3 separate regions of the Homo sapiens genome follow, and regions 1 and 2 are each linked to region 3. Evidence: fine-mapped expression QTL. A gene starts in region 3. Each other region holds a variant in brackets. All regions are shown on one strand. Distances are between the middles of the regions.

What was found. PIP is the estimated chance that this variant, and not a neighbour inherited with it, causes the effect.
Region 1: its variant is fine-mapped to the expression of SLC28A1 in left ventricle (GTEx, PIP above 0.99). The same link has a PIP of 0.9 or more in skeletal muscle.
Region 2: its variant is fine-mapped to the expression of SLC28A1 in nasal epithelium (TOPMed, PIP above 0.99).

Annotation. Positions count from the first base shown.
Region 1 is chr15:84,939,287-84,949,727 of GRCh38, forward strand. SLC28A1 (solute carrier family 28 member 1) reads left to right here. Exons shown (of 19, transcript NM_004213.5): 16 at 4,159-4,240; 17 at 5,280-5,378; 18 at 5,470-5,581; 19 at 5,839-6,512. The coding sequence ends at 5,914. It also overlaps the pseudogene RNU6-796P and the pseudogene HMGB1P43. Among named protein-coding and RNA genes, the nearest start is that of PDE8A, 37 kb to the right of the region's middle. The variant G/A (reference allele first, on the strand shown) is at 5,781.
Region 2 is chr15:84,918,466-84,928,906 of GRCh38, forward strand. It overlaps SLC28A1 (solute carrier family 28 member 1), which reads left to right. Exons shown (of 19, transcript NM_004213.5): 10 at 59-139; 11 at 2,524-2,604; 12 at 5,520-5,645. Among named protein-coding and RNA genes, the nearest start is that of SLC28A1, 39 kb to the left of the region's middle. RefSeq lists enhancers at 5,689-6,189, 9,602-9,661. The variant T/C (reference allele first, on the strand shown) is at 5,511.
Region 3 is chr15:84,879,823-84,890,263 of GRCh38, forward strand. It overlaps SLC28A1 (solute carrier family 28 member 1), which reads left to right and starts at 4,840. Exons shown (of 19, transcript NM_004213.5): 1 at 4,840-4,929; 2 at 6,850-6,965; 3 at 7,923-8,034; 4 at 8,950-9,038. The coding sequence starts at 7,939. RefSeq lists enhancers at 3,919-4,419, 4,420-4,920, 9,855-10,423.

The DNA.
Region 1 (10,441 bases), 59 kb after region 3:
TCTAGCCTAGGTGACAGAGTGAGACCCTGTCTGAAAACAAAAGACAGAGAGAAGGAAGCAAGAAAGGAAAGAAGGAAGGGACAGAGGGAGGGAGGGAAAAAGACAGCGAGACCGAAGGAAGGGAGGGAGCCTGGGGCTGCTCTGTGGAACACAACTGTAGGTGGGCAAGCAGAGATGCAGGTACCTTCATATTTTTTCCAATAATATTTGTATCAATGCTTTATGTTATAAAGGCATTAACTTTTTTCTGATATATTTTCTACATATACTTTTCCTAGCCTTTTCTGTTATTGCCCTTTATGTTGTATAAGGAAATTTATTTTTTGGTTTTTAAATGTAGAACGCTTCATGAATTTGTGCGTCATCCTCAGGTAGGGGCCATGCTAATCTTCTTTGTATCATTGAAGTTTTAATATATGTGCACAAGAAGCAAGCACAGGAATGTGTTTTTTTTTTAATTAAAAAAATTGTATTTACTTAGAAGCATTCAGAATGTCAACAAAACAGCTGTAACTTTTGAGTGGTATATATGTATGTATTTATTTATTTATTTTTGGAGACTGGGTCTCACTTTGTCACCCAGGCTGGAGTGCAGTGGTGCAATCACAGCTCACTGTAGCCTCTGCCTCCTAGGCTCAAGTGATCCTCCTGCCTCAGCCCCTGTGTAGCTGGGATTACAGACGTGTGCCACCACACCTGGCTAACTAACCTTCGCATTTTTTGTAGAGACGGGGTCTCGCCGTATTGCCCAAGTTGGTCTCAAACTCCTGACCTCAAGCAATCCTTCTGCCCTGGCCTCCTAAATTGCTGGGATTACAGGCATGAGCCACCACGCCCGGCTCCAGTGGTGTTTAGTTAACAAAACAGCAACTATTTTGTGTAAGCTGCATCAGAGACAACTAAAGATGAAGGCACTACCATCCACATACATAACTAATGTGTGCTGTGTGCCAACAAGAGCCTGCTTTAAATTTCCATGCCAATTTATAACCCCCATACTGCACCAGGCAAGGTTGGTGGCTATTGAAAATACCACCAGGACAGAGTTATCTAAAGACACATTGGGTAGTATGTAACTATGCAAAAAAAAGGACACTGTACAGTTTAAAAACAAATCTTACATGGCCTTACATTTTAATTTATTTCTTTAAAAGGAATGAATTTAGTGTGGGGGGGTTAAATACATTATATACAAAAAAAAAGCTACTAGAACTAGCTTATTCATCATCTTCATCTTCCCCATCTTTCCTTCCCCCTCATCCTCTTCCTCTTTCTCATGTTTCTCCTATTCTTTCTTTTTCTTTCTTTTTCAGCCTTGACAGCTCCCTTATTTTTGCTACATCAGGCTTTCCTTTAGCTCGGTATGCAGCAATATCCCTTTTGTATTTTTCTTCCAGCTTTGCAGGTGTCTTTTTCTAAGGCTGCTTATTCTCCACAGCGGTTTTATAACCACATCTCTCCTACTTTCTTTGCAACATCAACAACGGATAGGCTGGGATGTTCTCCTTTGATTTTTGGGTGATGCTTGGAATAGAACAAGAAGAGGCCAAAGGAGGCCTCTTGGGCGCATTGGGATGCTGGAACTTCTTTTTTGTTTTCCCTTTAGGAAGGATGTAAGTTTTCATTTCTCTTTCCTAGCCAGCCTTGTCCGCCTTTGCCACATCTTCAAATTTTCTTTTCTGTTTAGTTGACATGGTCATCTGCCTCTCTGGCACTTCTTTGAAAGCTCTGAGGAGTTGCCTGAAGCATCTGGGTGCTTCTTCTCGTGTCCCTCCCAACAAGCTTGGACAGGGAGTGCATATAATCACATTTTGCCTCTTGGCTTCTTAGGGTCTCTTCTGCCCATGTTTAGTTATTTTTCCTCAGTGAGGCACAGAGTCACCCAGTGCCTGTCAGCTCTCACTTGACCCAGCATTTGGGATTTGTTTTTTTTTTTTGAGACGGAGTCTCGCTCTGTTGCCTAGGCTGGAGTGCAGTGGTGTGATCTCGGCTCACTGCAAGCTCTGCCTCCTGGGTTCACGCCATTCTCCTGCCTCAGCCTCCCAAGTAGCTGGGACTACAGGCACCCGCCACTGTGCCCGGCTAATTTTTTGTATTTTTAGTAGAAATGGGGTTTCACCATGTTAGCCAGGATGGTCTCGGTCTCCTGAACTTGTGATCTGCCCACCTTGGCTTCCCAAAGTGCTGGGATTACAGGCGTGACCCACTGCACCCGGCCGGGATTTGTTTTTTTTTTAACATAGATTTTATACCAAATATTTTCTTTTGTGATTTCTTCTGTTATTTCTAAACTTATAACGTTATCTGGAAAGTGCGGCTGGGCACGGTGGCTCATGCCTGTAATTCCAACACTTTGGGAGGCCAAGGAGGGTGGGTCACTTGATGCCCGGAGTTTGAGACCAGCCTGGCCAACATGGCAAACAGGAAATAGAAAACTTAGCCAGGTGTGGTAACACACACCTGTAATCCCAGCTACTTGGGAGGCTGAAGCATGAGAATCGCTTGAACCCAGGAGGCAGAAGTTTTCAAAAAAAGGAAAGAAAGAAAAAGAAAGTTATCTGGAAAGTGTTAAATTCGTGAAATAACGTGATGAGATAATTCAGACCATGAGCTTTGGAGTCAGAACTGAGTTCAAATTCTGATACAGCTACCTTCTTGCTGTGTGAACTTCCTTAGTTACTTAACCTCTCTGAGCCTCGGTTTACTCCTCTCCAAAATAAGAGTAATAATAGTACCTTGTAACTATATTTATTATCCTATATTTTCTATCATTCTATACTTAAAATATTAATATTTATCTAGAATTAATTTTTATATAGTGTGAGGGGAGGCTCTATACCAATTTTTTAAATAATTTTTAATTTTTGTGGGTATATAGTAGGTGTAAATATTTATGAGGTACATGAGATGCTTTGATACTGGCATGCAATGTGAAATAAGCACATCATGGAGAATGGGGTATCCATCCCCTCGAGCATTTATCCTTTGTGTTACAAACAATCCAATTATACTCTTAGTTATTTTTAAATGTACAATTAAGTCATTACTGACTATAGTCACCCTGTTGTGCTATAAAATATTAGCTCTTATTCATTTATTCTAACTATTTTTTTGTACCCATAAACCAATTTTGTTTTCAAATTATTTCATTTTGGCTCTTAAAACTTCTTTCTGGGAAATAGGACAGTTGTTAAGAACAAAAGCAAATAACTATTGTGTTTGAACACTTACTGTCTGCCTGGTGTTTCCCATACATTATATAATCCTTTTTACAGCCCTCCCAGGCAACTACTATTATTCCCCTATTCCAGACAGGAAAACTGACACTGAAAGAAGTGACTGACTTCTCAAGCTGATCATTGGTGAGACAATCCTAGAAGCCAGGCTGGCTGGGCTCCAAATCCCTTACTCTTTCCTGTGGGCCATACTCCCTCTCTCAGCCTGAGAGCATTCACAGGAGTGCTGTGAACTGGAAGCCCAGGACTGCGGGGTCAGGGAAGGGGCTGTCCACCAAATGGCCCCAGGACAGAGCTTAGTAGGGCCAAAGCGACAGGACTAACAAAGGCTGAACCCCATCCAGAAAGGCTGGTAATGAAGATTAAAAGGTTGAAGGACAGGCTGGGTGTGGTGGCTCACACCTGTAATCCCAGCACTTTGGGAGGCTGAGGTGGGCAGATCATCTAAGGTCAGGAGTTTGAGACCAGCCTGCCCAACATGGCGAAACCCCATCTCCGCTAAAAATACAAAAAGTTAGCCGGGCGTGGTGGCGGGCACCTATAATCCCAGCTACTCGGGAGGCTGAGGCAGGAGAATGGCTTGAACCCAGGAGGCACAGGTTGCAGTGGGCTGAGATTGTGCCACTGCACTCCAGCCTGGGTGACAAGAGTAAAACTCCGTCTCAAACAAAAACAAAAACAAAAAAAGAAACAAAAAAAGTTGAAGGACAGATAAGAGAGGGGGGCTATGTTTTTGATGTGGTGCAGTTTGAGCCAACTTAGAGGTGGGATTGCAAGGCTGGGGAAGCGGCAGCACAGAGGACTCAAAGGTCAATTACATGTAAGAAGTGGGTAAAATTAAGGCCAGGGAGCCTGGGTGTTATAGGGGTGCCCCAGGCCCATCTGAGGGGAGCCCCTCCTCATGCATCTTCTGTATTTTCAGGTCAGAGCTGAAGTCCTCACGACGTTTGCCCTCTGTGGATTTGCCAATTTCAGCTCCATTGGGATCATGCTGGGAGGCTTGAGTGAGTCTAATCAGGGCCTCACCAGTGTCTAGGAGAGTCTGGGACTTGAACTTGCTCGGGACATGTAGGCCTCAGTTGTCTCATTTGTCTAAAGCAGGACCCAAACAAGATGGCCATAGAGGCCAGGTGTGGTGGCTCATGCCTGTAATCCCAGCACTTTGGGAGGCCCAGGTGGGTGGATCATTTGAGGCCAGGAGTTTGAGGCCAACCTGGCCAACATGGCAAAACTCTATCTCTACTAAAAATACAAAAATTAGCCAGGCGTGGTGGTGCACGCCTGTGATCCCAGCTACTCAGGAAGCTGAACCCAGGCACGAGGATGAGCTGAGATCGCACCACTGCACTCCAGCCTGGGCTACAGAGCGAGACTCTGTCTCAAAAAAAAAAAAAGAAAAAAGAAAAAGATGTTCATAGAGTTTCCTCCTAGCCCTAGAATTCCGATTCTCTGCTGCTGCTGGTGGCCCAGGAAGTTAGCACCTGGGCCTTGAAGGCCAAGCCTGGCTCAGGGGTGGGAGGTGTGGTGCTTGCCTGTCCCCAAGGCTTTGGCCTGCCTGTTCCCACACCCACAGTGGACAGGCAGGCAGGCCTGGTGGGGCCTAAGGTCGAAGGGTCTGCACAGTTCTCAGTTCTTTACAAATAACATTTCCAGTCCTGGCAGCTACACTGCCTGGTGGTATAATCACCCCATTTTACAAAGAAGGAAACTGAGTCTTCATGAAGTGAAGTGGTGGCCCAAGTCACTCAGCTAGTGAGTGGCTGAGCTTGTATTTAATCCCAGGTCTGCCTGACTCCAAACTCACATTCTTTTCCTGCATCTGCCACTCATGGTGTGTAGGGAGATGTGGGGCATTGCCTAGGGGTCCAAGCCAGGCCAAAGAGAACTCCTGAGCTCAGCAAGCTGTCAGGAGGACAACATCTGTCCCTCTGGCCATCTATTAATAGAAGAGGAAGGGAGGTCAGCAGATGCAGCCCGAGCTGCGGAACGCGGGCAGAGAGGGACACAGCTTCCCAGGCCCTGAGCACTTCTGTCCCCTTGCAGCCTCCATGGTCCCCCAACGGAAGAGCGACTTCTCCCAGATAGTGCTCCGGGCGCTCTTCACGGGAGCCTGTGTGTCCCTGGTGAACGCCTGTATGGCAGGTGAGTGCAGGCCTGGCAGGCTCAGAAGGTGGAACCCTGACTTTCTGGCTAGCCCGGGGGCCCTGCCCCACCCACCACTTTCCCTCTACAGGGATCCTCTACATGCCCAGGGGGGCTGAAGTTGACTGCATGTCCCTCTTGAACACGACCCTCAGCAGCAGTAGCTTTGAGATTTACCAGTGCTGCCGTGAGGCCTTCCAGAGGTGAGGGCCTGGGCTGTGGGACCTGCAGGGCACCCACAGTGATAGACAGAATGCCTGAGCGCTGGGGGGGATGCCTTTGGTACCAGGGTGAGGGTAGAAATGTTACGGCTGCAGCTAATGGGGAGGTGAAGGCTCGAGGACCAATGGAGGAAGGGTGGACCAGAGACTTGAAACAGTGTTCCCGGTGTTGCACAGCCTG[G/A]TGGTGGCCCGCAGAACCAGGCCTGGAGCTCCCACTGCGATCTTTGCTTTCTTTTTAGCGTCAATCCAGAGTTCAGCCCAGAGGCCCTGGACAACTGCTGTCGGTTTTACAACCACACGATCTGTGCACAGTGAGGACAGAACATGCTTGTGCTTCTGCGCTTCTGAGGGCTGTTCTCCCCCGGGAACCATCTGTCCCCACCTTCCCTTTCCCAGAGCCCTCTTCAGGGAAGCCACAGGACTTAGACCCAGCTCAATCCCACAATTGGGAAGGGTTCATGGAGTGAGTGTGCAGAGAGTGAGTGAGGACATAAGGAAGGACATGTCCCACTCCATCCCCCTTCCTGCTCCCCCATTTCCTAACTCCCCCAGTGTGAATTCTCAGGGTCACTTCTGCCTCCTCCCGTTTCCCCTCCACATCCAAACAGCACCCTGGTCCTCTCTATCCCCCCTCTCCTGGGGTCCCTCACATGCCCCTTCCCTTCTGTTGTGGGCTGCACACCAAAGCCTCCTCCCCTCCCCACTTCCTAGGCACTAGGATCTCTCTGTGGCTTCCCCTGCTGGGTGGTGTCACCTCTTTCTCTGCTTTCAGAGAAACCCTTCCCGCCTTTCCTCAGAGTGCTTCCCAAACTGAGGTCCCATGGCACACTGTCCTGGGAGGCGTTCAGAGGGTTCCATGATGGACTAGGTTTGGAACCACTGGGTTAAATAAACTTAGAGAGGGCTGTTTAGACTTTTGTTTGTTTATTTTTTTGTTTTTTTAACTGTGAACTTGTCAGAGCTTGGTGGTTTTTTCCACATTTACTTGACCATAAAAACCTTTTCACTCTGTCACCCAGGCTAGAGTACAGTGAGGTGATCATGGCTCACTGCAGCGTCAACCTCTCAGGCTCAAGTGATCCTCCCACCTCAGCCTCCTAAGTAGCTAGGATCATAGGCATGTACCACCATGTCCAGCTAATTTATATATAAATACACACATATATATACATACATATATATATATGTGTGTGTATGTTCATATATATATATATATATATATATATATTTTTTTTTTTTTTTTTTTTTTGGTAGAGATGAGGTCTTGCTATGTTGCCCAGGCTAGTCTCAGACTCCTGGACTCAAGTAGTCTGCCCACCTTGGCTTCCCAATGTGTTGGGATTATAAGCATAAGTCACTGTATCTGGCCCATAAGAACCTTTTTGATGGAAGTGTCTCAGTTGAAGATTTTGTGGAATACAACTTGGGAAATATTGGCTAATGTTCAAACTGCTTTACTCTAGGCAACTGTAATGTTAGCAAATGCTTATGTGGCACTGTGTGCCAGGCACTGTTCTCAGCGCTTTATATATTTTAACTCAATCCTTACAACAACTTCATGCAGTAGGTGTTATTATTGTCACTAGTTGAGGAATCGGAGTCGCGGACAGGTTAAGTTATGTGCCTAAAGGGACAGAGCTGGGAAGAGGCAGAGGCAGGATTTGAGCCAGGCCACCTAGTTCTGGGTGGTATAGGGGTGCCCCGAGCCCATCTGAGGGGAGCCCCTCCTCATGCATCTTCTGTATTTTCAGGTCATAACACAAACTGCGATGTGGGGCCTCTCTGTTGGGCTGCTGGTGTTCAGGGAACCCTGATGGGTGGCCCGCCCTCACCTCCCTCGCTGCCTTTCCTCCCCACCCCAAGCCCTCTGTGCCACTAGGTGAGGCCCGATGTCCCTCCCCTGCCTTCATTTCTGGAGTTCCTATCACCAGCATGCCCTCTCCATCTCCCTGCCGCCTGCCCTGCTCCCATCTCAGTTCTCATTTTCCCCAGCAGCTTTGGCTTCCAGGACCTGCGATGCACCCTGCCCTTGTGGCTGCTGGGGCCCTACACCCTCACCCCTACCTGCCAGGTCCAACTTCTTTCCTAGCTGGGGCTGACCCTGACCTAGGGCAGTGGGAGGGTGGAGCCCTGGCCAGCAGTTATTCAGCTCAGCCCCAGTGAGCCAGGTCCTGTTTCTGTTCTGCCACAGACTTTGGTTCCAGTGGGCAGCAGCCTTGCTCCTTGTGAGCCCCACAGGCTGACCTGGGTCCCCATCCTCAGGGCCTGTGTCCTTCCCTTAGCTCCACAGAGTGGAGGCTTGGCCTGACTCCTGTAGCTCCAGCTAGGCTCTTGCCTTCTCTCTGCAGCCCTCCCTCAGTCCTTGCTACCTGCTCCAGCTGCCCTTGGGCTGTGGGCAGGGTGCCCTGTTGATATGGACAACACAGTCCTCTCCCAGGATTGGCCCTCCGCCCCTTCCCTGCCCATATGTTGGCCTCAGCTCCACTAGCTGGGTCATGGAACAGCCCAAGGACTGCCCTTGACCCCCTTCTCTGGACTCCCTGCACGCTCATTCTGTGGCCAGTGGCCTTCCCTAGAAGACTGCAGGCCACTTGAATATAGGGCTCACACTGTACCCTTCTGTCTTAGTCAGTTTTGGCTGATAACAAAATACCATAAATGGGATAGCTTATAAACAACAGAAATGTATTTCTCACAGCTCTTGAGGCTGGGAAGTCCAAAATCAAGGTGCTAGAAGATGCTGTGCCTGGTGAGAGCCAGTTTCTCATAGGTGGCACCTTCTCCCTGTGTCCTCACATGGCAGAAGAGGCTAATGAGATCCCTGGGGCCTCTTGCATAAGGACACTAATCCCATTCATGTGGGCTTTACTCTCATGACCTTATCACCTCCCAAAGACCCCCCCTCCTAATACCTTCACCTTGGGGGCTAGGATTTCAGCATATGAACTTTGAGGAGACATGAACATTCAGACCATAGCAAATAGTAGTGTAAGCTATTAACAAGAGGGGAAAATGGGTGTGGGATATATGGGAGCTCGGTAGTATTGGTGCAACATTTTGTAAGTCTAAACTATTCTAAAATTTAATAGTTTATTTTTTAAATGGCATGGGGAAAAAAAAACTGCGTGGACACAGATGCTGTATAACTTGTAATTCAGCCCATGGGTAACTCTGTCCTAGACAATGCATGTCCCAATAGGCAACATGCCAAGGTCTGTGAGTTGACTAATGGGCTACATTGACCCCCCTTCTGCCCCTTTCTTCCCATGGCCCTGCCCTCACCTCTGCTGCCCCCTCAATTTAATTCAAGCTCATGCCTTCAGCTGAATGTTAATTAGTCCTGACCTCTTTGCAACCACATGAAGAATATCATCTGCTTGAAATTACTTTTGACTTGGGATTAGTGAGCCCTGAGGTTGGACAGGACCTTAAACATCATTTTGAGGGTGTCTACCTCCCCATCCAGCTTTTCTGAGAATGTTTATACCCACTGTATGGATGGCCTCTGTCAACATGTTTTTATGTTTGAGTCATGAGACTCCATTCCCATGAGTGATTTGCTATTGAACCAGGATTGAATGCCTGACTCAGGGCAGGCCAAATCTGTACTCTTGCCAATGGCCTTTTGGATTCTTGGGAAGGAATATGAATTATAAAACCCAGAAACAGAGCTGGGAGCTGAGTCACCACGGTGGGGCTATGGCTTGGAGCTGACCTCATTCCCTCCCTTACTGCAGCCCAGTTGTTCTGCTTTTCCTTGGATTCCATGACAGCCAAATTCTTTCCAGAAATCCCCTCTAACCTAAACTAATTGAGAAGGTTCCTCTTTGTAATGAGAAGGACATTGCCTAGGATAGTCACTTTGTTAACCCCCGATTCTGCTTGAAATCAAGCAGTCATTCATCATTTGCTTAAACCTCATCAAGATAATAACCTCACGCCTCTCATTGCTACTCCACATTGGAGAGCTCCACTTCTGAGAAGGTTCTTTTTTGATTTTGCATCAAAAAGTGTTTTGCTTTGATCCATCCCAGTTTTGCCATTCTGGGCCACTCTGAATGGGTCTCATCTCATATGTATATCTTTGTTGTCCTTTTTCCTACTTACCAAAGTAATACTTGCCCATTAGTTTTAAAAAGTCAAATCTTAAAACTTATAGAAATGGTTTAATCCCTTTTCCACATGACAATCCATCAAGTATTTGAAGATGATGCCCATCCAGGCTTCCCTTCTCTGAGCCAGGCACCCTTAGTTCTTTCAGCTGTTCCTCACATAACACATAGCAGGGTTTCAAAATTTGCTCCAGACCTGATTCGAAGCTGTTCTGAATTTGTGTGCAGACAGTGCATGAGTCAAGAGCAAGTCGAAGATGAAGCCAGAACACAGCATGGTAAATATGATCTCATGGGTGGAACCAAGATGCTGTGATGAGACTAAAGATTGGATATGGTCTTAGGAGGATATTTGAAAGAGGCAGACTTATTAGGAAGGGTGTTTTGCTTTGTTGTTTGTTTTGTTTGAGATGGGGCCTCTGTTGCCTGGGCTGCTGTGCAGTAGTGCAAAAATCCTGGCTTGCTGCAGCCTGGACCTCCTGTGCTCAAGGGGTCCTCCCACCTCAGCCTCCCACCTCAGCCTCCCAAGTAGCTGAGACTACAGGTGTGTGCCACCATGCCCGGCTAATTTTTTTTTTTTTTTTTTTTTTTAGAGATGGCGGGGACTCTCTCTATGTTGCCCAGGCTGGTCGTGAACTCCTGGCCTCAAGTGATTCACCCATCTCTGCCTCCCAAAGTGCTTGGATTACAGGTTTGAGCCACTGTGCCCAGCCTTAGGAAGGGTGTTAAG
Region 2 (10,441 bases), 39 kb after region 3:
TGGCACCCTGCATCCTGCCTGCCTCTAACCTGCGGTCCTATGATCTCCTTCCCGGCAGGTTCTGCCCATCATTGTCTTTTTCAGCTGTGTCATATCCGTTCTCTACCACGTGGGCCTCATGCAGTGGGTGATCCTGAAGGTAAGTTCCCAGTGCCCATGGCCAGGGCTCTCCCAGAGTCACCAGCTCACAGGGTTCACACTGTCCCAGAATGCCTTGCTCCCAGAGCCCAAACCTCCCCAGACACACTGCTCCCCAAGCCCACACCCTTCCAGAGTCCCCTGTTCCCAGTGCCTCCACCTTCCCAGAATCCCCAGCTGCCAAGTTCCACACCTTTCTGGAATCCTTTGCTCCTGAGGCCCATACCTTCCCAGAATCCCCAACTCTTAGAGTTCACACCTTCCTAGAATCCCTTGCTTCTGAAGTCCATATCTTCCCTGAACCCCTGGCTCTTAGAGTTCACACCTTCCTAGAATCCTTTGCTCCTGAGGCCCATACCTTCCCTGAATCCCCTGCTTCCAGGATCTTCACCCTCACAGAATCTAGTGCTGACCAAATGTCCTTTCCCAGGGTCTCCTGTCATGATACTAAAGAGAAATAGCACCAAAGTCTAATGTGGTCCTTGCTAGAGGAAAGGTTGCAGTTTTGAGGCGGCACTGAAAAGGTGTAGAGGGAAGAAAATAATTTATACCGAAAAGATATTGAGAGACTGTAGCAGTGGACCATGTTGGCCAGACTTAGCTGGTATAAATGTCAGATCCTGTGCTTATGTTCATAAAATATGCTGCACAAAACTAGGATGTAGGAGATAGCATTGGACAGCAACAGATAGCATTGGACTTGGCAAAAGATTCCAAGGTTTTAGCTGATTGAGCTCAGAATAAATCAGCAACATCAGATGGCTTCCAGAAATGCAAAAACAACCTGTGGTTATTATCTTTGTTCATTTTCTGTTGCTATAACAGAATATCACAGACTGGGTAATTTATAAAGAAAAGAGATTTATTTGGCTCATGGCCAAATAGAGGGTATGGTTTCAAGATTGAAACCTTGGCTGGGAAGGCCAAGAGCATGGCACTGACATCTGGTAAGGGCCTTCTTGCTGTGTCATAACATGGTGGAAGGGCAGAAGGCAGAAGTGAGCACACAAGACACAGAGAGATCAGGGCCAAACTTATCCTTTTTATCAGGAGTTCACTCCCATGATAACCAAACTACTCCTGCAATAACAGCATTAATCCATTCATGAGGGCAGAGCCTTCATGCCCTAATCACCTCCTCAAGGTCATGCCTCTCAACATCGTTACAATGGCAATCAAATATATATATATTTTTATTTGGCAATCAAATTTCAACATGAGTTTAGGTGGGGATATTCAAACCATAGCAGTTATGTTAAGAGCACACACAGCATAGCATAAAGGAGGTGATTCTCCCCAGACCTGGAGACTGTGTTCAACCAAGAGGCTATGACAAACTGAACTATAAGCAGGATAGTGAAAGGGATTGAAACCATGCCCTCCACAAAATGGTTGAAGGAATAGGGAATGAGGAGCTTGGAGAAGAGGAAGTTAGGGGAGGATAGCTGTCTCCAAATACTTACAGAAGAGAGATTAGGCAAAGGGCAACCTGAGAGGCACCAGCAGTGGAGAGAATTCCAGGGAAGCAGATTTCATCTTGATTAAAAAGAAGAGCTTTCTAGTTGGGCGTGGTGGCTCATGCCTGTAATCCCAGCACTTTGGGAGGCCAAGGCAGACGGATCACCTGAGGTCAGGAGTTCGAGACCAGTCTGGCCAACATAGTGAAACCTCATCTCTACTAAAAATACAAAAATTAGCCGGGCATGGTGGCGAGTGCCTGTAGTCCCAACTACTCAGGAGGCTGAGGCAGGAGAGTTGCTTGAACCTGGGAGGCAGAGGTTGCAGTGAGCCAAGATTGTGCCACCGCACTCCAGCCTGGGTGACAGAACGAGGCTCTGTCTTGGAAAGGAAAGGAAAGGAAAGGGGAAGGGGAAGGGGAAGGGGAAGGGCTTTCTAATAGAATGTTTCCCAAAACCTTTTCCACAAAACTCTAGTTCCACAGCATGTTAGTAAATGTTACCAGGTAAAGGTAGCCTAATCCCATGGTCAAATAATTTAGGGAAACTAGGCTAGACATTATGCTATGAAAATTTAAATAGGCTTAATGCAGGACTTCTCAGAGGCTTTACTAAGCTAATGTGTATTGGTAATCTCCAAGGGGTGTGTGTGTGTGTGTGTGTGCATTTCACAATTCTCAAATATATTGGGCCAGGAAATCCTTTCTGCATTCCTACGGTGAAATGAATGGCCTTGGGAAGGGGTAAGCCCCCATCAATGAAGGTGTGGAAGAAGAAGATGAATGGACCTTTTGGGAAAATGTAGATGAAGGGGTCCTACACTGGGCTGGGAGTTGGGAGGAAACTGTGTAAGGTCTTCCACTCCAGCCCCCTCTGACTCTGGGGTTTGCTGATGTCAGCCCACAAAGAACATTCTGCTTCCTTCTAGATTGCCTGGCTGATGCAAGTCACCATGGGCACCACAGCCACTGAGACCCTGAGTGTGGCTGGAAACATCTTTGTGAGCCAGGTGGGTATGGAAGCCTCCTACCCTCATGCTCATCAGCAGCTTCCCCAAAGAGGGCAGTTTCCCTGGATCCCCAGAGCTCTGATTCAGTCCAAGGAAGAGCCATTTGAACCTTCTCCCAGGGTCATCAAATTCTGCTGCTCCAGGGATACTCTGTTTGGGGGATGCCTGGGTCATGCCAGGGAGGATGTCATCTGTCTGGCTTCTCTTACCACTCTAGCCCTAGGCGGTCTTCATCAGCCCAAAGACTCACAAATCCTCCAGATGGATCCAGTTTCTCATTTTACACATGAGGAAACAGGCTCAGGGGATGGGAATCCCTTGACCAAGATTCCACACATATAAGCCACGGCTTCAAATCCAGGTTTTCTTCTTTCTGGTCAGAGTTTTTTCCACTGCATCATTTTGTCTTTTCTTTTCTCCCTCTTTCTTAAAATGTGTTTTCCAAAGTAAATGTGACTCTGAAAGTACCCTTGGTGCCGAGTCCCTTTCAGAAAGCCTGATCCCCCTGAGGATGGCCCTCTGGAGACTCTGCCAAGGCCTGTCCTGGCCCATCTGCCTAATGTTTGAGTCACCAAGAGACACACTGGTTAGAAGATGCCATATTTCACTGGACAGTTTAGGAAACTTTGGAGAATATTTTTATCTTTTTTGCTACGGTGCATGTGTGTTGATTTGAAAGTTTTTGTTCTGGTTATTTTTTGTTTAGTTTTGTCTTGTTTTTAGCCGATGAAGATAGACGTGCTCTCAGATAAACTGTCAAAAAAATCCCTTAAGGTGTTCAAAATGAGGCAAAAGAGGAAAACACTATTAAAATGCAAAGCAGTTATTCTATATGAAAGGCTGCAAATGTGTTCCATGTGTTTTGCTGGGAAAATATGTAGGTGAAAGTGACATTGGGCGATGTGAAGCGCTGCCAAGGTGAATTCACTTTGGACAAGCTGTTGATTAAGCTGACCTAGATGCCGGGGTCTACGCCTCATTTCCCCCAAGAGGGAGGGATGGGGAGCCTTCAGGGATCAGTGGCATCATTTGAACCTCTCTACTTGTGGCAGGCCTGGGCCCTCTGCTCTTGTCCATCCACACTCCCTCCCTGCAGGATCACATTAGCCCCATGGCTTTAAACACTTTAAATGTCTCTCAGGTCCTGCTCTGCAGTCCTGATCTCCCATGAACTCAGGACTGACAGGTCAACTGGCCCCTTGACCGTCCACTTGGAGATCTAAGGGGTGTCGCACATTAAGACGCTAAGTCCAAACAACCTGAACTGTTGCTCCCCTCCCTCATCACCCCTGCCCCTCTCAAGCCCTTCCCCTCTTGGCAAGTGGGAACATCTTCCACAGGATGGTTCAGGCGGAGCTGGAAGAGCTGCCCTGCCTTCCTCCGCTTCCCCCACTGCGGCATCCAATCTATCAGCATTCCCACAGCGCTGCCTCTGTGGCCCATCTACAACCCCCCGCTGCCCGGGCCACCTGCCTCTCACCTGGACACTGCCGTCTCCTCCTACCTCTTCTTCCTTCCCGTACTATCCGTCCTTCACTCATACACCCGAGTGACCCTTCAAACACACAAAGCGGATCATTCCACTCCTGCCTAAGCAAGCGTGCCCCTCACCGTGGCTTCCTAGCCCCTCTGTGGCCCACCTGCCCCCTCTGCCTCTGTCTCAGGCGGCTCCCCCGCGCCCATCTGCAGCAGACATGCTGACTGCTATGGCTTTTGGACCTTGCAGAGCTTCTTGCTGCCTTAGGGCCTCTGCTATTCGCTTGCCTGGAATGCTATGCTATCAAACCATGTCACTGGCTCCTTCAGGTCTCAGCCAACCCTAACCTAATGTCACCTCCTCAGAGAGGGCTTTGCCGATTTCTCAGTTTCTTTGTTTTTGTTTTCTGAGATGGAGTCTCGCTCTGTCACCTAGGCTGGAGCGCAGTGGCACAATCTTGGGCTCACTGCAACCTCCGCCTCCCGGGTTCAAGCGATTCTCGTGCCTAAGCCTCCCTAGTAGCTGGGATTACTGACATGTGTCAGCATGCCCGGCTAATTTTTGTATTTTTAGTTGAGACAGGGTTTCACCATGTTGGCCAGGCTGGTCTGGAACTCCTGACCTCAGCCAATCCTACCACCTCAGCCTCCCAAAGTGCTGGGATTGCAGGCGTGAGCCACTGTGCCTGGCCTACTCAGTTTTAAACACCCCTAACCAGTAGGCATTATCACACATATCTTCATAGCTTTCATCACCATCTAAAATGACATTGCTTACCTGCTTGGTTGCTTGTTGATTATCTATATCCTCCCACCCTCCACGGCTCCCAGGATATAAGCCCTATGAAGGCAGGGACTTTATCCTGTCGACGCCATGTTCCTATTCTATATAACAGTGCCTGGAACACAGTAGGCGCTCAACAACTAGATACTGAATGAGTAATGAAGGGCTTCGGGCTGCCCAGATGCCCAGAAATGCACCCCTCATCCAATGCCCAAGCTCCTTTCTTTTTGGCCACCGCTGTGGCTGCAGGAGAGCTTGGGCCTGCAGCAGGACCTGCTTCACATCCTTTTACATGAGCAGGGGTCATTCCTGGAACCCCACCGAACCTCTGTTGCTCTCCTGGAAAACGGAGATACCCAATTCTATCTCAGAAGGTTGTGAGTAACAAAGGTGACGTGCTTAGCGGGGTGCCTGGCACGTGGCAGGACATCAACACAGGGGAGCATTGTCAGGCCGGGAGGGAGGGATGGGGGTCCTTCTGTAGAGGTAGGCAATGCTGAGGTTCAGAGAAGCTCAGCCAAGTACAGACCCTGGTCCTTACCCCATCCTGCTGCCTCTTACCGTGGGACTCCCAGCTGCTCACTGTGACCTGTGAAGGGAGAGGATGTGCCCAATCACCCCCACCCTGCTTGTCTGACATCTTTCC[T/C]GTTTGCAGACCGAGGCTCCATTACTGATCCGGCCCTACTTGGCAGACATGACACTCTCTGAAGTCCACGTTGTCATGACCGGAGGTTACGCCACCATTGCTGGCAGCCTGCTGGGTGCCTACATCTCCTTTGGGGTAGGTAGAGCCCTCCTTCTGCTTGGCTATGTTGAGGACCTGAAGCCCATCTTTGTGGGAGCCCCACACAGCTCCTGGCCAGAGCAGCCCTCAGATCTTCTCTCTTGGGCCTGCTGTGCTGGCAAGAGGAGTGGCTTCCCCTGAGCCCAGTGGGCTGGACCATTTGCTCGGGCTTTGCGCATGGCCACCTGGGGCAAAGCTTCCTGGTGTTCCATTTACTGAGTGCATGCTAGGTACCAGGCAGTATGCTAGGTGTTTTAATATCCCCATTTTCCAGATGAGAAAATTGAGGCTCCAGAGTAAGTGAGATGCCCAAACCCAGATCTGTCTGACTCCAAAATTTGTGCTCATTTCTCCAGTCTCACACCTGGGCTGTCCCTAGAGATCCGTCCTACTCCTTCCCTCCTCCCTTTCCCCACACTCTCTCTGGGCTCAAGTCCTGCCTCTGCTCCTAAATTATTGCCTGTGCAGTTTACACAGCACAAAGAATTTGTAGGTCAAATTCCAGTGGTGTGAATTAGGCCCTAAAAGCAATCACAATGCTACTGCATGGTGGGCAGAGGGAAATTCTCAAATGCATCCCTCACATAATGCCCGGTAATAATGCTTTACATTCATAAAACACCTTATGCTTTCACATTTGTGCTTTCACAGGCAAATCTTCAAAGGTCTCAATTTTATTTCCTTAATGATCAAAGAAATTCTTGCTTATTGCAGAAACAAATAAGTTTTTAAATCTCTTTCTTAACCCCACTTCCCATGGGTAACTGATTTTATTTTTTATTAATTTTTTTTGTTTGTTTGTTTTTGAGACGGAGTCTTGCTCTGTTGCCAGGCTGGAGTGCAGTGGCGCAATCTTGGCTGACTGCAACCTCTAGCTCCCTGGTTCAAGCGTTTCTCCTGCCTCAGCGTCCTGAGTAGCTAGGATTACAGGCACGCCCCACCGCGCCCAGCTAGTTTTTTTTTTTTTTTTTTTTTTTTTGTATTTTTAGTAGAGACAGGGTTTCACCATGTTGGCCAGGATGGTCTCGATCTCCTGACCTTGTGATCTGCCCACCTCAGCCTCCCAAAGTGCTGGTATTACAGGCATGAGCCACGGTGCCTGGCCTGGTAATTGCTTTTAATAGCGTAGAACAGCTATTCTGAAAGTGGGGTCCATGGACCAGCATTGTCAGCATCACCTGCGAACTTGTTAGAAATGCAAATTCTTGGGCCCACCCTAGACCTGCTGAATCAGAAACGATGGGGGATGCCAAGGCGGGTGGATCATCTGAGGTCAGGAATTTGAGAGCAGCCCGGCCAACATGGTGAAATCTCATCTCTACTAAAAATACAAAAAAATAGCTGGCCGTGGTGGTGGGTGCTTGTAATCCTAGCTATTTGGGAGGCTGAAGCAGGAGAATCACTTGAAACTGGGAGGCGGAGGTTGCAGTGAACTGAGATCGCACCACTGCACAGTAGCCTGGGCAACAGAGTGAGACTGTGTTTCAAAAAAAGAAAAGAAATGATGGGGGTGGAACCAGCATACTGCGTTGCAACAGGCCTCACAGGTGATTCTGATGCCCGCCCAATTTGAGACCACTGACCTAAAATGTCATTCCAAATCTTTCTGTGTAAGTAGGCTTTTAGGTATATACACCTGAGTACTCACATACTTTCTCTCTCTTTTTTTTTTAATAAAAGTTGAGAATCATTGATCAGGAGAAAATAGTTCACAAATTATAAAAAGATATTCAAGCTCACTGATGTTCAAAGGAATTAAGACGATAATAACTTATCTTTCTTCTAAGTGATATGAAACCCTTTACGTGCCCCCAAATGGCAAGTGTGTGGTACTCACCCACTCATGGTAACAGTTTAATTTACTGTAACCTTTTTTGGTGAAGGCCTATCAGTCTATTTATTTTTTATTTATTTTATTCTATATATAATATTTTGTTTTTTTATTTTATTCTATATATAATATTTTATTATTTTATCATATATCACTTTTAATTTTTTTATTTATATAATAAAATATTGTATTTTATTATATAGAGCAATTAAAAATATTTATTTTTTGTTTTTTAACTCCCCACATGACACCAACATGTATTTATATAGAGAGAGACAGAGTTTCCCTCTGTTACTCAAGCTGGAGCACAGTGGTGCAATTACAGCTCACCATAGCCTCAAACTCCTGGACTCAAGCAATTCTCCCACCTCAGCCTCCTGAGTAGCTGGGACTACATACGTGCGCCACCACCCCTGGCTATTTTTTTTTTTTTTTTTTGGTAGAGACGGGATCTTGCTATGTTGCTCAGGCTGGTCTTGAACTCCTGGGCTCAAGCAATCCTCCTGCCTTGGCCTCCCAAAATATTAGGATTACAGGCATGAGCCATTGCATCCAGCTTCAATCACTTTAAAAATATTCTTTCCCTTTGATCCAGCTAGAAAAATTGTGATATAGGGATATTCTCACAAGTGTTCAAGAAATGCAAAATTCCAACATTTGCAAAAGCAAGAAAACTGGACAGCCTAAATGCCCAGCAGTACAGTCATAAGCTGGGTAAGTTGCCCCACACAAGGTGGTAGCATTCAGCATGAGAGTGAGGTGGCCTGTATGTGCTGATTTGGAGATTGACCCTGCCCTGCCTTCTGGCTCTCTGCCCCTGCCCCAGGCTCTCTGGATGCTGTGTGGGGGGTGGGGGGAGGGGGGGGGTGGTGGTAGGCGGTGACCAGAAAATGACCTACATTGTCCCCTTCTTTAATCCCAAATTCCACCTGTCTCTCTCATCTCTGTCCCTGGGGATGATGAGAGATGGGTGAACAAACAGCCAGCCTGCCCCTCCATCTCTCCTTCACTCCGGATGCCTGGACCACACCAATAAGCTCAGCTCTACATGCCACAGAGCTGTCTGGGCAGGGCCAGCTGTTGCGTGACTTTTCAAGAAGTCCCCTTGGGCTCAGGGGCTTTGGTTTCTGGCCTGGTACCCTCCCATCTAGAATTCTAGAGACTGTCATCTGGTTTGCACCTGTCTTGCTGAGGCCTAGAAAAGGGCTCATTAAAACTGGTGCACCCACCCACCCCACCACCAATTGTTTTTGGAAGTGTGGAGGCCAAGGGAAAATTTCCCCTACGTCCTCTGAAGGTTCACTGAAAAATCAGCTCACAAAAGGGAGATTAACAGGAGAAAGGCACACAAATTTATTTAATGCATACACACGGGGGCCTTCAGAAGGAAGACCCAAAGATACAGGGAAAATTGTCCATTTTTACGCTCAGGTTCAACAAAGTATGGATAGCCACATAGAAATAGAATTGGACAAACAGAGTGTGATCTAATACTAATCGACTGAGTGGAGGAAAAACAGCAAAGCCTGTCTGTGTAGACTCTTCTTGGGCTCTCTGAGCATTTTTTCCTTCTGGGTATGGGGCAAGATCCTCTCTGGAAGGGGGGGTCTTATGACCTACACTCAAACAAAGTAGGTCAGATAATTTCTTTATTGCCACTTTTTACCCAGAAAGGCAGAGGGAAGTTAAAGCAATGTTTTTAGGCTTTATGGCTGGCTTTGGGGAAAAGGGCTTCTGGTCTCCGTGCCCTGCCTTGGAGAAGGGGAATTCTAGTTTTTATGGCTAGCCTTGAAGGAGAATTGGACTGATAAATGGGAGGGCAGGACAGAAAAACTTCTTCTGAGGCTACTTCTGAGCCCTTTATTCTAGGTTTTGTTTTAAGAGTCCCAGCAGAAGGAATTTGATATTTCAAAAATGGAAACCCAAAACTTTGTTCCTGAAACTTTTTTTCATGGCAGGATATTGGGGGAGGGGGATGCCATAATATTTTCAGAACTTAGGGCTTTAAATGTCTTAACCTTGTTCTGGTCCCCTTAGACAACGAAAAGAATAACGCTGGTGTTCCTCCTAGTCATTACTTAGAACTTAAACACTGGAAGAATGCTCGCCCATTTCCACAATCTGGCTTAAAACTCAGCCCTCTTTTCTTCCCTTTCTCAGGCAAAAGTCCAGGCCCAGCCCTGGGCAGTCTGGCTTCCCCATTGACAGGGCCTGGGTACCCACTTCCCTTTAGCTGCACAGAATGGGCAGAGGCAGCCAGGATCATCCCTAGGTGCCCTTGAGCCTCCATTTTACAGTCTCTGGTTTGAAAGCCCCAGACTACAACTATAGCTGGCCCAGAGGAAAAGCACCTAACAAACAAACCTTCCTTCCCTTCAATCTCTGGGTCTGCCCCAGTCTTTTCTCCAGAGCAGCTCTCTTTTGCCCCCACCTGGCTCATGACAGTCACTGCACCAGCCCTGTACTGCACGCCCTCTAACTTCCTTCCCCAGTCAGTTCCTCAGTATCTTTGGCTCTGCCCTCAGCCTCTGAATCCCAGAAAGGTCTCTCTTGCCCTTTCCTTCAAGCTCCCAGGTTCGTTCGTTCTTTCTTTCTTTCTTTCTTTCTTTCTTTCTTTCTTTCTTTCTTTCTTTCTTTCTTTCTTTCTTTCTTTCTTTCTTTTCTTTCTTTCTTTTCTTTCTTTCTTTCTTTTTTTTTGAGACAGAGTCTCCCTCTGTCGCCCAGGCTGGAGTGCAGTGGCTCAATCTCGGCTCACTACAACCTCCACCTCCCAGGTTCAAGCAATTCTCCTGCCTCAGCCTCCCAAGTAGCTGGGATTACAGGCATGCGCCACCAACCCAGCTAATTTGTGTATTTTTAGTAGAGACAGGGTTTCACCATGTTGGCCAGGCTGGCCTTGAACTCCTCACCTCAGGTGATCCACCCGCCTCGGCCTCCCAAACTGCTGGGATTACAGGCATGA
Region 3 (10,441 bases):
CATCCTTGGCCCATGACTAGCACTGCTACGAAAGGCTGTCCTTGCTTCACCTCAAAGTGGAACTAACTCCATGGGAGAGTTTGGGCTCTAGGGTGTCTCTGTGGGATCAGACTAAAGCCAAGCCCCAGCCGAGACCACACTGCTGCTTCTTCCCTTGGCCCTATTCTGCCTCCCTTATCCCCTTCTCCCAAGAACACTCCCCCAATAAATCACTTGAACAGAATCCCCATCTCAGGCTAAGGAATCTGCATAAGATCCATCAGGCATCCTGCTGTGTTGGCTCTCGCTGACAGAGAAATTTCACTGGGACTCTTCTTTTCTTCGCTTTCTTTCTCTTTTTCTTTCCCTCTCTCTCTCTCTTTCTTTCCTTTCTTTCCTCTCTTTCTCTCTCTCTCTCTCTCTCTGTCTTCTTTTTTTCAGGATCTTGCTGTATTGCCCAGGTTGGAGTGCAGTGGTGTTATCATGGCTTACTGCAGCCTCGAACTCCTGGGCTCAAGCAATTCTCCCACCTCAGCCTCCCAAGTAGCCAGGACCACAGGCATGTGCTACCATGCTGGTGGCTCATCTTTTCTTTCCTTTCTTTTTCTTTTCTTTCTTTCTTTCTTTTTTTTTTTTTTTTTTTGGAAATAGAGCCTCGCTCTGTCACCCAGGCTGCAGTACAGTGGCATGATCTTGGTTCACGATAACCTGTGCCTCCTGGGCTCAAGCAATTCTCCTGCCTTAGCCTCCCGAGTAGCTGGGACTACGGGCATGCACCATCATGCCCACCTAATTTTTATATTTTTAGTAGAGACTGGGTTTCACCATGTTGATCAGGCTGGTCTCGAACTCCTGACCTCAAGTGATCTGCCCGCCTCAGCCTCCCAAAGTGCTGGGATTACAGGCGTGAGCCACTGTATGAGGGCTCATCTTTTCTATCATGGCAAAATGTATATCCTTGGAGCAGTTGGATTCTTATTCAGGATATGGGGCTGACTGCCCAGTAAATCAATCCTTGCAGAATTCACACTGGGTCTTACCCAGGAAGTCATTCAGAGACACCATAACCCTGATGACACAGAGTCTGGCCAGAGAACACAGTCCCCAGCAGTAGAGTCCAAGCGGGGGTCCAGAATCCATCCTGCCTGTCAGGCAGCCGATGAGATGGTCACATGGGGCAGACACCTCAAGAGCTAGCTCAGATCTTCCAAATACTAGCACGCAGCGCGGTGGCCCCTGGCTTTACCTCAGGTTGGCCAGCTTCTCAATAGTTGCTCCCTTTCTGGTACTGGCTGCCCCGTCATACTCCCCCATGGAGGACAGGTAGGGGAAACAGTGGCCAATGCCTACCTCACTGGGTTATTGTGAGGGTTCCTTGAGATAGTGCATGTAAGGCTCTTATCACAGAGCCTGGCATCTGCCAAGCTCTTAAGTGTGCCAGCTGGTACCATTGTTGTCACCATCTCCTGGAACTACAGGATCCATCTCAGGGCCCCTCACACACTGCTCTTCCCCTCCAACCTGGGAGCTCCAGTGCCTCTCCGTTTCCTGAGGTTGGGGTGGTTAAAAAAGCTCTCTGCCCAAGCCCCTGAGTACTACCTTTCCAGCTCTCATCCCTGTGGGGACCAGCACTGCCCTGGGGAAGGAGACTGATGGGAACCAACAGGAAATGCTACAGCTGAGGCTCCCGGCCCATGAGCTGGCCAGTATTGAGCTTCTGTGATGGGTCAGGTCTCCACGGCCACAGAACTGAGGGAATTGGACGCAGCCCTTGGAATCAGGAACCTTGCTTCTACAGGTGTAGTGAAATGGAAAGGAGTGTTTCCAAGTGAGTCATGGCGTCTGATTGGCAGGCCCATCCAGGAACAACAGTGAGAGTACCAGTGAGAGTAGAGTGAAAGACACAGCCACGCCTTTGACTCCATGGCAGGACACTAGTGGTGGAATTCCACCTGGGGGGTAGGGGACGAGATATGCTTGGAGAGTTTCAATGTCTGAATATGGGACGTGACATTCACAGGTGTCCGTTTTTGTTCTACCTAACAATTGTATTTAATTTGTGGTGCCCTACTTGTCAGCACTTCTCTATGGACCCTGCTGGTCTTTGGTAGATTTGTTTTCCTGGCTCCTGCCAGGAGGCCTTAAGTCCTCTTCATGATTACTCCTGTAAAAATATCTGGCTTCGCCCTAAGTCTCAGTGAGGGCCACATCAGACCACTTCTATGACAGGGGGAGAAGATGGAACAATCAAGGAATTATTTTTGTCTGTATAGCGAATCGGCTTATCAACTGTGACTTGATCAATAAGGCAATGGAGATCCAAATTAATAGTCTCCACAGCCCCTGCCAATAGCTGGAGGAAGTGTACTTTAGAAGGAAGATATAGCCTTTAGTATAAAACCTATAATAGACAGGGACATCACCCCTGAACCCAATAGCATAACATGAATTAAGACCCTTGGTTTGCAGAACATCTTGATCTGGATCAAACTGAAAAGGAACTATCTCAATTTCTCACTATATGAAAAGCTGATATGAGGCTGGGCACAGTGGCTCACACTTGTAATCCCAGCACTTTGGGAGACCGGGGCAGGAGGATCACTTGAGCCCAGGAGTTCTAGACCTGGGCAACATGGTAAGACCCTGTCTCTACAAAATAGGTAAATAAATAAATATTAGAACAACCAGGATGAAATTTTTTAAAAAAGAAAAAAAAATTAGCTGGCGTATGGTGCACATCTGTAGTCCCAACTACTCTGGAGGCTGAGGTGGGAGGATTGGTGGGAGGTCGAGGCTGTAGTGAGCTGAGATTGCGCCACTGCACGCCAGCCAGGGAGACAGAGTGAGACCCTGTCTCAAAAAAATAAATGAATAAATAAAATGCTAATATGAGCTGGAGAGGCAAGAGGAATAGAAGGTAAAAAGAACAACAAGGGAAATACACTTTTTAAGTACAATCAATTAAATATTAAATATTTGGGAACAGTGAGCTCTGAACTGCTTGGGTAAAATTCGCCCTGCCTGGTGGCCTTAAGCACTCCTGCAGGTGGGACCCGGCATCCTAATTCTACCAGGCCTCTTGTTGCTGCCGTAGATGAGCCCCAGACTCGGCCTTCCATTTTGTATTGGATGATGACCACATGTGCCCAGATGTTCTCAGTGAGTAGAGTGGGTCAAGGAGTAAACTATATCGGAAACCGTTGGATAATCATGCCAAGCAGGCTGGGGGCTTCCAGCCTTTGGGGTACTGGAATGCTTTCTTCCCCTGGGACCAGCTGAACTAGCTCTGTAGTTGCCGGGAGAGCAGTGTGCTCTAACACTTGGGCTAGTCCGTTCCCACAGGAAAACTAGAAGAGTCACAAGCAAAGAGTATAAAAGCCCAAGATATTTCTTTAGTCTTTGTATTTAGCTCTATGTCATCAATTTTTTTTTTTACAGGGTCTCACTCCTGTCGCCCAGGCTGGAGTGCAGTGGTGTGATTATGGTTCACTGCAGCCTTGACTTCCCAGGCTTAAATGATCCTCCCACCTCAGCCTCCTGAGTAGCTGGGATTACAGGTGCACGCCACCACACCTGTCTAATTTTTTCTATTTTTTGTAGAGACAGGGTCTCCCTGTGTTGCCCAGGCTGGTCTTGAAGTCCTGGGCTCAAGCGATCTACCTGCCTTGGCCTCCCAAAGTGCTAGGATTATTGCTACTTTCCAATATTTCTACTACAGACTACGGGAAGTCCATTTTTCAATGCCAAATGCAGAAGAAAAAGTTGTATGGATGCCCTTTCTGCCAATCATCCCAGGTTTAGGAGAGAAGAATGATGAGGTCATGTTCATGGAACTTGACGAGTGATAAGCCTCTTTATTTGTCCAGTGCTTGGATACACGAATCGATGCAATGAAAGAGACCTCGCCTGTGAAGAGCTAAGAAATGAGTGTGGGCAGAATCATGAGAAGAAAATAAAGAGATTGCTGAGCAACTCTTCTGACAGTTCTTGTGCTTTTTGAATGTTTCACTCACTACTTATAAAATAACCTATTATGTCAGAGCCTGGCGAGAAGGGATCCTCTCCAACTCTTTGACTAATAATTCCCTAAAACAGGAGGTGGCCTGCAGAAGAACTAAAACCAGAAAAGTTAGGTGGTTGCCTCTGAGGAATGGGATAGAGTTGGAGGGGTGGAGCAGCCCCTTTACTGTCAACCCTTCTGAGCTCTGCTGGATGGTGAGGGAAATTATCTATGTATATTTATGTGGTCCTCTCCCCACTCTGCCCTGGCCTGGCTCAGCTCTAGGTCTCACTCAGCGGGCGTCTGCGGGTGTGCCGGGCCTCAGAGGCTGTCTCCTTAGGAAACAGGCCACCAAGAAGCCCAAGGACATGCTGAGGTCCCACAGCTGGAGGGGCACAGCCGGGACACCTGAGGTCCTCCAGCTGTTGGTCTTTCCCTGGGGTCTCCACCCCAATCTATCCAGCCTCCCAACTCCCCAGCCTGTGGCTTTTTGCCACATTCCACCTGAAAAGACCGCTTGGCTTCTGGGGTCTGGGATCCCTGCTGGCCATGCCTCCTTGAGAGGAGGAGCAGGGGAGAAGCCCGGAGTCTCCTGGCCTGGAGGAGGGGAGCAGTGTGTCAGGACACCCCGGATGGGACCTGTGACAGCAATGACACCTGCCAGCCTGATGCCGCTTGACTCCCTGCCAGGTACTTCCTAAGCAGGAGCACGCTGACTCCTCATGTGCTCTATTACCCACCACCAGATGAGGCAGCAAGTTAACTTTGGCAGTCAGGAGTGGAGACCTTTGGGCTCCAAGCTCAAGGTCCACCCCAAGACACACAGCCCATTAAATCCTTGTTGTAGAGATTAGGGCCCACAACGATGTGAAGGTTATAAGCTGCACTGCATGGTTGCTGCTGGATGTGTTGTGTTCCTGGCTTCCCTCTGGATGCTGACAGAAACAAGGGTGAGAGAAAAGGACAGTAGGAGAGGAGGGAAGGCGGGACTGAAGAAAGGAGGGGAAGGGGGTAGCACAGGGCAAAGTGGAAAAGCAGGTAGCGTCCTTTTTTTCTTCACTAGGGCTTGGCGAAGACCCCTTCGAGGACAGCTCCAGGCCCATCCCTGTGGTGGCCACCCATGGAGACAGTAGTGCTGCTCAGAGGCATTTAGTTTTTGTTTCTTTTCTGTTTTTGAGGTAGAGTCTCGCTCTGTTGCCGAGGCTGGAGTGCAGTGGTGTGATCTCTGCTCACTGCAGCCTCCACCTCTCGGGTTCAAGCAATTCTCCTGCCTCAGCCTCCCGAGTAGCTGGGACTACAGGCACCTGCCACCATGCCTGGCTAATTTTTGTATTTTTAGTAGAGACGGGGTTTCACCATGTTGGCCAGGCTGGTCTCGAACTCCTGGCTTCAAGTGATCTGCCCACCTTGGCCTCCCAAAGTGCTGGGAGTGCAGGCATGAGCCACCGTGCCCCCCCTCTTTTTTTTTTTTAAAGGTAGAGTCTTGCTCTGTGGCTAGTTTTCAATCAAGGTAACACATGGGCTCTCAACAGTGTGCGGAACTCTGCTAGAAAAATCAAATTATGAGAACACTGTTACTGTGTGATCCCCTATTGGAAAATGAATAACATAAAATAACATACATTTAGGAAAAAAAAAGTGGAGAAAAGGCCAGGCGCGGTGGCTCATGCCTGTAATCCCAGCACTTTGGGAGGCCAAGGTGGGTGGACCACCTGAGGTTGGAAGTTCGAGACCAGCCTGACCAACATGGAGAAACCCCATCTCTACTAAAAATACAAAATTAGCCAGGTGTGGTGGCGCATGCCTGTAATCACAGCTACTTGGGAGGCTGAGGCAGGAGAATCGCTTGAACTTGGGAGGCGGAGGTTGCAGTGAACCGAGCTCGCACCACTGTACTCCAGCCTGGGCAACAAGAGTGAAACTCCGTCTCAAAAAAAAAAAAAAAAAGGAGGAAAATGCCACACAAACTCAATAGTGGTCATCCCTGAGGGCTCAGATTCCGGGGACTTTAACTTCCCTCATTCTGTATATTTCTCTAATGTTTAAATGTTTAATGATACACTTGTAATGCTTTGGTAATTCAAATGACAGATGAAGAAAAAATGTTTTCAAAAAGAGGGGGTGTCCATCCACCATCCTCTCCAAACTTCCAAAACAACCAGGAGGTGCCGGTACTAGCAAGTATTTATGCATCATAGAGGATTTTGTCCTGAGCGCGTACCATTAATTATTAAAGAGATGTTGTGAATCCCGTCAGATGAGTTTAATGTTTAGTGTGAGGACTGGAAAACTAAAGCATTCAGCCCTTCGCTTTGCACACCGTTGGCTTAGGTATTCATTTAACAAAGATGAAATGAAGGGGAAATGGTGTGATTTGGTTTTGTTTTCTTGACAGACCTGAAACACTTTTACTATTTCTCACAGCTACACTGCTTTCCTCATTTTCCAGCACAGGAAAATTGGTTGCTGTTATAATAAATCCCCATCTAGTGAGAAAGGGAGATAGAGAAAGATGCAAAATGAAAGATAAAATGCAAAAAGCTAACAGCCTGGCTGGGGAAAGGAGGCCATGGGAAGGAAGGAGGGGGAGGGAAATAATCACATAGGTGGCTTCCTGGAAGAAGCGGCCCTAATAGGCCTGGAAGAGGTCAGTTTGGGAACTGGGGAGAGGGCAGAGGAGGGCATCTCTGATGGAGAAGCAGCAGCCAGTGGGCAGGAGCTGCAGGGAGCCAGGTTGCAAGTGGGCCTGCTTCCTGTATCCCTGAGACCGTGTTGGGGTCCCCACCCTGGCTGTGGCCCTGGCCTCTGGGGAGGCGCTGGGCAGAACTGGGTGGCAGGCCCAACCTACTCCGACCCTGGACTCTGCCCAGGAATTTCTGCTGAAGTGACAAGGCAAGCCAGAGCCAAAGCAGGTTGGACCCAGCTTGTCCCCACAGAGACGTGTGCTTCCCTCTCTCTCTGAGAGCGACCTGTTAACCGCAAATACGTGAGTAGAAACAGGGCCCCGCTTCTGTGTGCGCTGCTGTGCGTCTGTGTGTGAGCCAGGGCATTCCCAGGCTCTGCCTGTGTGTGTGCACGCACATGCACGGGTCTCTGAGTATGTCAGCCTAACTGGGCTGGCATTTGGATGGAGTAGGGCACCACCCAAGGGGAGAAAAAGGAGCGGGAACAAGAGAAGGGAGAGAGGAGGTGTTAGTTACCACTCTTATTTACAGATGAGCTTAAGCCTACGAACTGAGCTTCAGCAAAAAATGAACTATATTGATTCTTGCAATGGAAAGTCCAGGAGTAGGATTGGTTTCAGGTATAGTTGGATCCAGGAACTGGAATGATGCCTTTAAGGATGTTGCACCTCCATCTTTCAGAGATGGAAAAGTAGAATACACTGAAGATCTCACTTAATGGTAATAGTTTTAACCAGTTGTAGGGAGTGATGAAAGCTAGGTCCTCTCTTCAGAAAAATGCCTGTATCAGATACATATGCAGGCTGTATATAATTCTTTACTTTCCTTCCCTATGAAGTGGGCAGAATTTGCTGTTTCTGCCTGGAACTCCCAGAGTTCACAAGGACTTGCCTCTTACAGGTTCAGATGTGGGTGCAGGCTGGGGTGGTGGCGCACGCCTGTAATCCCAACACTTTGGGAGGCTGAGGTGGGAGGACTGCTTGAGCCCAGGAGTTGGAGGCCAGCCTGTGCAACACAGGGAGACCCAGTCTCTAGAAAAAGGAAGAGGTACCTCCTCCATGTGCTGAGAAGTCAAGGTTGCAGTCCCAGTCACAAGGAGGGGTGAGCTCTGGGATGGCATAGGTGGCCCCCAGGCAGGGCTCTGGCTGTGCCAGGCATCTGCTCCCCCCACTCAGTCCTCTCCCCTTTCCCCGGGCCCCTAAACTGGGCCCTGCCCGGCCTCCCTTTCAGCGTTGGGCGCTCCCTGATTTGTCTTTCAGCTGGAAGGTCTGGGACATGGAGAACGACCCCTCGAGACGAAGAGAGTCCATCTCTCTCACACCTGTGGCCAAGGGTCTGGAGAACATGGGGGCTGATTTCTTGGAAAGCCTGGTCTGTACCCTTCCCCATCAGTCATCCTGACCCCTCAGCCTCTTTGGCTTGAGCCCGGCTGCCGAGGTGATGAGGCTTTTGCTCACCACCTTCCCTCATACCCCATTCTTCTGCCCCCTTCTCACCTCTTTGCTGGCACAGTTATGAACCTCCCAGTGTGTTGGCCTCCTCAACACAAGGCAGACCCCTTTATTTCACTCATTAAACATTGACTGAGCACGTACTGTGTGCACTATAGTCTGAAAGTCCTAGTCTGAAAGGGCAGGGCAGGCCCCAGTGAGGAAGTGACATTAGAGCTGTGACCTACAGAATGAGAATCAAAACCAGATGATGGGGGAGGGGGGTCTCTAAGGAAATCTCAGCCTTCAAGGAGCCTTGTCCTTGCTTTCAAGTGGCCAGGTCAGGTCGAGGCACACCACCCAGAACTCGGAGCCTGGTAGGATACCCTGCACGCTCCCAGGCTCCTCTGACAAAGCCCCCTCCCCTTCACTGCCCTTGTCTCTTGGGGTGCTCCTTTCACGCTGTCATATGCAAGAATACCCACCCCCCACCCAAAACAGCTCCACAGACGGTGGGTGCATGGTGCCCTGAGGTCATGTGATGAGGTAGCCCTGCCTGGGGCCTCCCTTACAGGCCTCCCCTCGGCCCCTCTCAGTCACAGCTGGGCCGCAGGTGTCTGTCCCTGCGCAGACCATGAGCTCGCTGAGGGCAAGATGTGTCTGGCAGAGCCCTGCACACAGTAGGTGCTCAGTGCCTGCCTTGCAGAATCCAGTTTAGTAGCCTTCTAATTCCTCCCTGTGCCCCAGCCCAGTCCCCTCCTCAGCCAGGGTCTCACCGTGGCCCCCGACCCCCAGCTGTAAGTTCCTGGGGGTGGGTAAGGGGCAGGCCGACCTGACGGCTCCCTGCGGGCTGTAGGAGGAAGGCCAGCTCCCTAGGAGTGACTTGAGCCCCGCAGAGATCAGGAGCAGCTGGAGCGAGGCGGCGCCGAAGCCCTTCTCCAGATGGTAGGTGATCTCTGGAGAGACAAGGGCGGGCCTGGGGTGGAGGCTGCTTGGGAACAGGATGGGGAGCCGGGCCTCCTGGCGGATGGGAGTTGGGGGGACGTGAACCTTTGTTGAAGGGAGGAATAAAGGCGCTTTAGCCAACACGCACAGGCACATGAGCCTCGAGGGTGAGCCAAGTCACAGGCTCCCCACCTGCTTTTGAACAGCTGAAACGAAATCCCATCAGGAACCCCAGTATGTACCGTGGGGCCTGCCCTGAACCAGCCAGGCCTCCCTCTCAACCTCCCCCTTCTGCCTTCTACCCCCATTCAGTCTCTGGGGTACCTCGGGGAGTCTGAAGACTCCGGTTAAAAATCCTGAACTGGGCAAGGTCCCTGATTTTACACAGGGAGGTAGAAGCCCAGAGAGGGGAAGGGACCAGCCAGGATGGCATAGGCAGCGAGTGTCTGAGGTGAGCATAGAACTCCACCTCCTGATGCCTGGGCCATCTGGGTCCTTGTTGGCCAGATCCGGAGCTGAGGACACCGTGATGGGCAGGGGGTGGTGGTGGGGGAGGGATTCCGTCTCTCTGCCTGGGCAGGGGATATGGGAAGAATGCCTCCTCCACCCTCTCAGGAGGAGGTGGGAGGTGGGGACTGAGAGGAGGTGAGGCTCCTTAAAATGGCAGCTGGTGGGTGGATTCCAATTAGCATTGAGTGGGCGTCTACTCAATGTGTGTCCCATGGGCAGGTGGATGAACGACAGGGGAGGGGAGGCAGCCATCCATGTTTTTCTTTTCTTTTCTTTTCCTTTTTCTTTTCTTTCCTTCCTTCCTTCTTTCCTTCCTTCCTTCTTTCCTTCCTTCCTTCTTTCCTTCCTTCCTTCCTTCCTTCCTTCCTTCCTTCCTTCCTTCCTTCCTTCCTTCCTTTTCTTTCTCTCTTCCTTCCTTCTTTCTTTTCTTTTTTCTTTCTTTCTCTTTCTTTCTTGCTTGCTTGCTTTCTCTTCCTTCCTTCCTTTCTCTCTTTTTTTTTTTTTAGGCAGGTCTCACTCTGTTGCCTGGGCTGGAGTGCAGTGGCACGAACCCTTCCTGGGCTCAAGAGATTCTCCTGCCTCAGCTTCTTGAGCAGCTGGGATTACAGGCGCACGCCACCATGCCTGGCTAATTTTTGTGTTTTTGGTAGAGAAGGGGTTTGTCATGTTGCCCAGGCTAGTCTTGAACTCCTGGGCTCAAGTGATCCACGCTCCTGGGCCTCCCAAAGTGCTGGGATTACTGGTGTGAGCCACCGCGCCCCCCCACCGGCCACATTTCTGTATGTTGATGAGGTTCTGCCTTTTCAGTGAACTTCCTCCTGAGCCCTGGAGGCAGGGACTATCACTGGGGTAGTGGGGCCTGTGGGTGCTGCCACAGAGGCAGGAAGGCCTGA